Linked DNA regions of Homo sapiens. The protein of the gene in region 1 interacts with the protein of each later gene in a biochemical or structural test. Each region holds a gene or a part of one and is shown in the gene's direction. Other genes may lie near its edges.

Region 1 (3,500 bases):
TCTTTCAACCTAGACAGGTCTCAGTTTAACCCCTGCCCATCTGGATGGCATGAACTCCCAGGATGAGTGCCCTCTCAGTCAGCATGAAAGCATGAAAATGTGACAGAATGAAGGTAGTGCATCAGTTTTATCCAAACCCTTTGTTTCTATTTTATTTTATTTGTTTTAGAGACAAGGTCTCACTCTGTTGCCCAGCCTGGAGTGCAGTGGCATGATCATGGTTCGCTGCTAGCTCGAACTCCTGGGCTCTAGTGATCCTCCTGCCTCAGCCTCCCGAGTAGCTGGGACTACAGGCATGAGCCACCACGCTGGGCTAATTTTATTTTATTTTACTATGTTTTTTTTGTAGAGACGGGGTCTTGCTATGTTGCCCAGACAGGTCTCAAACCTGGCCTCAAGCAGTCCTCCTGCCTTGGCCTCCCAAAGTATTGGGATTACAGGCGTGAGCCACCGCACCCAGCCTCCCATCTTTAAGTTTACTTGTACCCAATGTTTAGCTCCCACTTATGAGTGAGAACATTCAATATCTGGTTTGGTGTCTTTTTGGTAGAACAATTTATTTTCCTTTGGGTATATACCTAGTAATGGGATTGCTGGGTCGAACGGTAGTTCAGCTCTTAGTTCTTTGAGAACTCTCCAAATTACTTTCCACGGTGGCAGGACAAATTTACATTCTCACCAACAGTGTGTAAGTGTTCCCTTTTCTCTGCAGCCTCGCCAACATCTGTTATTTTTTGACTTTTTAACAAAAGCCATTCTGACTGGTGTGAGATGTTATCTCATTGTGGTTTTGATTTGCATTTCTCTGATGATTAGTGATGATGAACATTTTTTCATAAGTTTGTTGGCTGCTTGTATGCCTTCTTCTGAGAAGTGTCTGTTCATATCTTTCGCCTACTTTTTAACGGGGTTATTTGTTGTTTTGCTTGTTGATTTGTAGACCTTTCTTAAATGCGTAGTTTGTGAATATTTTCTCCCATTCTGAGGGTTGTCTTTGTACTCTCTTAATAGTGTCTCTTGTTGTGTAGAAGCTCTTTAGTTTAATTAGGTCCCATTTGTCATTTTTGTTTTTGTTGCAATTGCTTTTGAGGACTTAGTCATAAATTCTTTCCCAAGGCTGATGCAGAATGGTATTTCCTGGGCTTTCTTCTAGGACTCTTATGGTTTGAGGTCTTACATTTAAACCTTAATCCATCTTGAATGAATTTTTGTATATGGTGATAGATAGGGGTCCAATTTTATTCTGCATATGGCTAGCCAGCACCATTTATTGAATAGGGAGTCCTTTCTCCATTACTTACTTTGTTGACTTTGTTGAAGATCAGATGGTGTTAGGTGTGTGGTTTCATTTCTTGAGGTCTCTTTCACAACTTCTCAACTCTGCCCTATTACTCAAGAGCAGCCATAAACAGGACCTAAACAAATGATCATGACTATGTTCCAACCAAACGTTATTCGTGGACACTGAAATTTGAACTTCATATACCTCACAAAGTATGATTTCTTGTTTTATAACCATTTTAAAATGTAAAAACCATTCTTAGCTTGCAAGCCATACTCAAAAACAGGTGGCCCACAGGATTTGGCCCCTGTGCCATGCTGACCTTTGCTCTACACCCATGACCTGTACTTGAAAGTTGAATTTTTATGAGATAGTGGGAAGAACATGGTCCCTCATATTAGATCCGAGTTTTCATCCCAGCTCTGCTGTGAACCATGTAATTGTGAGAACGGCCCTTCATTGCCTCCAGTGGTGTTTCTTTGCCTGTAAAATTGACCAGGGTTAGAAGTGAAGGGGGAATTGAACACATTTTTTTAGGATTCCCTTATTTAATCCTGTGAATTTACAAAGGCAAGGTGGCATGGGATGCAGGCACAAAGCATTAGAACAGCATTTTCAAGGTTTGGCTTTGGGTCCTGATTCTTTTCTAACTTGGAGCAAGTCATTTAAAGCCTCAGAAAAGAGTGGAGTGTTGGAATAATTGGTATCTGAGATTCCCTCCAGCTCTCAAATTCTGTACTTTAAAATGACAGCATTATTAAGACAAATGAATCATTTCAGCTCGTAGAGATTAAATGAACTGCTTGTATATATCATATTCCTGCCCCTGAAGAGCTCAGAGTTGGTGGGGAGGGCAGACCAATGCCTTTGCCTTAGCAGTGCCTCTGTGCCAGGATGCTGGGCTCCCAGGAATCAGCTTCAAAAATCAGATTGAGGATACAGTGGGTTCAAGGGTAGCTTCTTATGCTTGTTTTTTGTTTGCTTTTTTCCTTTTTGTGGAGAATGGGGTCTCGCTATATTGCCTAGGCAGGTCTCAATTTCCTGGGCTCAAGCTATCCTCCTGCCTCTGCCTCCCTAAGAGCTGGGATTACAGGTGTGAGCCACCACACCTGGCAAGGGGTAGCTTCTTAAAGGTGGTGACACCTGAAGTGAAATGGCAGGGTAAGCAAGGAGAGCCTAATGAAGGTCTCAACGTTTACATGGGAAACAGTGATGTTCGAATAGCTCAACCTAACGGAGTGAGTAAGAACTTATTCCCAGCTACTCGGGAGGTTGAGGTGGGAGGATCCCTTGAGCCTGGGAGGCTGAGGCTGCGGTGAGCTGAAATCGTGCTACTGCAGTCCAGCCTGGGTGACAGAATGAGACCCTGTTTCAAAAAAAAAAAAAAAAAAAAAAGAAGAACTTAAAGTTTGGTAACATTTTTAATAAACTTTCCCAATCTTTGTGTACTGATGTCTTTAAAAAGAATAGGTTGCAAGTTAAAGGTTTTCACTGATTTTTTCTTGATCTGTTTACTATTTAACTATATTTTAATTTCTTCTTTGACTACAGTTGTCATTTGCTTTTTCATTTTCTTTCTGAGGTGAAGCTAATGCTCTGTCAATGCTTTTATGAAAATTCATCTTATTTACGTATACAAGAGACTGTCACTCAGAGACAGCAAAGCCAAGCTGACAATACCCCTTCTTTGCCCTCTGCATTGTAGGCAGAAAATTCCGTAAAAGCTAAGAGATGTCAATACTATCGTGTTGCCCTGTGTAGGTGGACAGATCCCAAATGGGAAGCTTTCCAAATTTTTTTTTTTTTTTTTTTTTTTGAGATGGAGTTTTGCTCTTGTCACGCAGGCTGGAGTGCAGTGGCTCGATCTCGGCTCACTGCAACCTCTGCTTCCTGGGTTCAAGTGATTCTCCTGCCTCAGCCTCCTGAGTAGCTGGGATTACAGTCATGTGCCACCACATTCCAGCTAATTTTTTTGTATTATTAGTAGAGACAGGGTTTCATCTTGTTGGCCAGACTGGTCTCAAACTCCTGACCTCAGGAGTGATCTGCCTGCCTTGGCCTCCCAAAGTGCTGGGATTACAGGCGTGAGCCACCGCGCCCAGCCCTAAATTTTTTTTAAAAGACATCAATGCTGCTATTCTCTTGTTTTGCTTATGAAAACACTGAACCGTGAAGAGGTTATATTCATTCATTCAGGTTAAATGTTTGAAGGTTCTTG
Region 2 (3,500 bases), on another chromosome or scaffold:
TTCAATAGGTTATACCAAGTTATATGTCTTTTGAATCAGTATTTGCATTATGATCTTTTATGATGAATGTTATATATATATATATATATATATATATATATATATATATATATTTTTTTTTTTTTTTTTTTTTTTTTTTGAGACAGAGTGTCACTCTGTTGCCAAGCTGGAGTGCAGTGGCGTGATCTTGGCTCACTGCAACCTCTGCTTTCCAAGTTCAAGCAATTCTCTGCCTCAGCCTCCTGTGTAGCTGGGACTACAGGCGCGCACCACCACACTCAGCTAATTTTTGTATATTTAGTAGAGACGGGGTTTCACCGTGTTCACCAGGATGGTCTCAGTCTTTTGACCTCGTTATCCGCCTGCCTCAGCGTCCCAAAGTGCTGGGATTACAGGCATGAGCCACCGCACCTGGCCAAATGGTGTATATTTTTTAAATGGCAGTCGAAAGGCAAAGCGTTATGGTTAGGTTCCTAGAAAAAAACAGAAGCCCAAGGATTAAACCCCGGACTGTAGCCGTGTTGTTTCCTGTGCTGCTGAATAGCCTCACACAATGTGTGTTCACATGAATTCCAGGGCATCTTCCTTAGTACCAAGTTCATTTTTTATTCTTTTCTTATTACATATTAACAGCACAAACAGTGTGATTCTTTATAAATCATAAGATTGCACAGTTACTTGAGTTGGTTCATTGAGCCTCTATATTTATTAAGAGATTTTTCTTTAACTCGGGCTGGGTATAAACAATGGCCTCCTCATAGCTACTTAAACATTTCACACTTAGTGCCGGACACAGGGGTGTGCAACTGTAATCCCAGCACTTTGGGAAGCTGAGGCAGGTGGATCACTTGAGGTCAGGAGTTTGAGACCAGCCTGGCCAACATGGTGATACTCTGTCTCTACAAAAAATACAAAAATTAGCCAGGCGTGGTGGTGCGCGCCTGTAGTCCCAGCTACTTGGGAGGCTGAGGTAGGAGGATCACTTGAGTCAAGGAGGTCGAGGCTGCAGTGAGCCACAGTCGCCCCACTGCACTCCAACCTAAGGGACAGAGCGAGACCCTGTCTCAAAAAAAAAAAAATTAAATTAAAAAATAAAAATAAAACATTTAACACGAAGTCACATAGGCATATGAGGAATGTGCTAAGTGCTCCTGGATATCCAGAGAAGTTAGGTTTTATCTGAAAACTTCTGTATTCATTCCTTTAACTGGATGATAAAATCTGTACCTCCACTGCTTCCACATAAACATAGATTCTAAACTTTTAAGTAGGCACCAATTGATTAATTGATTGATGCATTTTTACTCTTGCCCTTACCTGTCATCCATCTCTTTTTGTAATACACACACATACACACATACATTTTTGTTTATATATGTGTGTAAGTAAAGGATGTCCATCTGACCTCTCATCTTTTACCCAATTATTCAGACCCTCTACATACTGTTTTTTGCAATTTCAGGTGTGTTATAGATACAAATTTTAAATATGTAATTTTTCCCATCTAGGATAGTGAATATTACAATTCCCTAAGATGGATTCTTGAAAATGACCCAACAGAATTGGACCTCAGGTTTATCATAGATGAAGAACTTTTTGGACAGGTTTGTGAATTTTGATCAGTTAAAATGGCACATAAATTGTGAGACAAATGTTTAGATGTTAATACGTACACTTAATACATTCCTAGGCTCTGTTTTTACATTCATTTCCCAGTAACAAAAGCTGTCTCTGAGCAAGAATTTGTACTTTCTTTAACATTTGACTCGTTCCATATTTATTTTAGTAAAACTAGTATTTTAAGTTTTCTTAGTTTTTAACTTTTGACTGGACTTAATTTAAAACACCAAGTTTCTCGTATAACTACAATATGTATACTTTTTAAATTTTTCTCGCTAAAATAACATATCAAGTTATTGTGTTTAATTTTAGACACATCAACATGAGCTGAAAAATGGTGGATCAGAAATAGTTGTCACCAATAAGAACAAAAAGGAATATATTTAGTAAGTATTTTATTAGTATGTATTTTATTGGATATAATTTTGTACTTTATTCCAGAAAGACTCTTCTTACCATCTTTCTCTGTCCCCTTGTCCAGAATCTCAGTGTTCTTTTTCTCTATCACAATGCAGTAGCAAGCACTCATATTCAGCTTTTACCTTGGTCTCAGCTAGCCTTTAGTTTTTGTTTCTAACTAGAATAATTGTGCCTCAGAATTTTGTCTTGGTTCACATGAAAATGAAATGTTGTTTCTTTTTAGTCTTGTAATACAATGGCGATTTGTAAACCGAATCCAGAAGCAAATGGCTGCTTTTAAAGAGGTATTCATTTTCTTTTATTTGCTCTTCCATAATGTCACAGTATAACCTATAAGTTTCAAATATTAGGCCTCATCACATCTGAGAAAAATAAGTATATGGCTTGTTTTGTGAAATCATTCTAAATTATATTTTTATATTAACTAAATATTCCATTCAGTCATTCAAGAAGTCTAGACAATAAACATGGACAGGTCCCCTTTCCCCCAAGCCTTTTCCCTATTCCATTCTCTTCACTTTAGGACAGCAAAAGAACAAGAGTGCTTTAGGGATAGTATAACATATTGTTTGTTTTTCTAAATAGGATCACCTTACACATTTTGTTTTGTGACTTACTTTCTTCTTTTTTTTTTTTTTTTGAGCGCGGAGTGAGTCACTTTGTCGCCCAGGCTGGAATGCAGTGGCGTGATCTCGGCTCACTGCAACCTGCACCTCCCAGGTTCAAGCAATTCTCCTGCCTCAGCCTCCTGAGTAGCTGGGATTACAGGTGCCCGCCACCACGCCTGGCTAATTTTTGTATTTTTAGTAGAGACATGGTTTCACCATGTTGGTCGGGCTGGTCTCAAACTCCAGACCTCAAGTGATCCATCCACCTTGGCCTCCCAAAGTGCTGGGGTTACCAGTGTGAGCCACCGTGCTCGGCCTACTTTCTTCTTTTATCAGATATTTATTAGGGATATTTACATGTGACGACATATAGCTGCCTTTCTTTGTGGCTATATTTTATTCAGAATATAAATTAAAAAGTTACTTAAATTTTTCCAATTGGTAGACAGATTGTCAGAGCACTCATTTCTTAAGCTAACTTACAATCTTCTGTTAAATATGTATCTGGCTGGGCATGGTGGCTGACGCCTAAAATCCCAACACTTGAGGAGGCTGAGGCGGGAGGATTGCTTGAGCCCAGGAGTTCGAGACCAACGTGGACAACATAGGGAGACCTTATCTCTATAAAAAATTAAAAATTTGGGCGCGGTGGCTCATTCCTGTGATCCCAGCACTTTGGGAGTCCGAGGTGGGCAGATTGCCTGAGGTCAGGAGTTTGAGACTAGTCTGGCTAATGTGGTGAAACCCTGTCTCTACTAAAAATACAAAAAAATTAGCCGGACGTGGTGGCGTGCACGTGCAGTCCCAGCTACTCGGGAGGCTGAGGCAGGGGAATTGCTTGAACCTGAGAGG

The links. The genes of interacting proteins can lie anywhere in the genome.
Region 2: the proteins of MAP3K5 (region 1) and NEDD4 form a complex in vitro, tested with the Homo sapiens proteins (2 studies listed by BioGRID, with this or other methods).

What each region holds. Positions count from the first base shown.
Region 1 is NC_000006.12:136,785,978-136,789,477, reverse strand, and holds part of MAP3K5 (mitogen-activated protein kinase kinase kinase 5), read left to right. Parts: intron 1-3,423; exon of another isoform or gene 3,424-3,500. UniProt on the Homo sapiens protein: Serine/threonine kinase which acts as an essential component of the MAP kinase signal transduction pathway. Plays an important role in the cascades of cellular responses evoked by changes in the environment.
Region 2 is NC_000015.10:55,836,613-55,840,112, reverse strand, and holds part of NEDD4 (E3 ubiquitin-protein ligase NEDD4), read left to right. Parts: intron 1-1,508; coding exon 1,509-1,604; intron 1,605-1,932; coding exon 1,933-2,006; intron 2,007-2,263; coding exon 2,264-2,324; intron 2,325-3,500. UniProt on the Homo sapiens protein: E3 ubiquitin-protein ligase which accepts ubiquitin from an E2 ubiquitin-conjugating enzyme in the form of a thioester and then directly transfers the ubiquitin to targeted substrates. Specifically ubiquitinates 'Lys-63' in target proteins.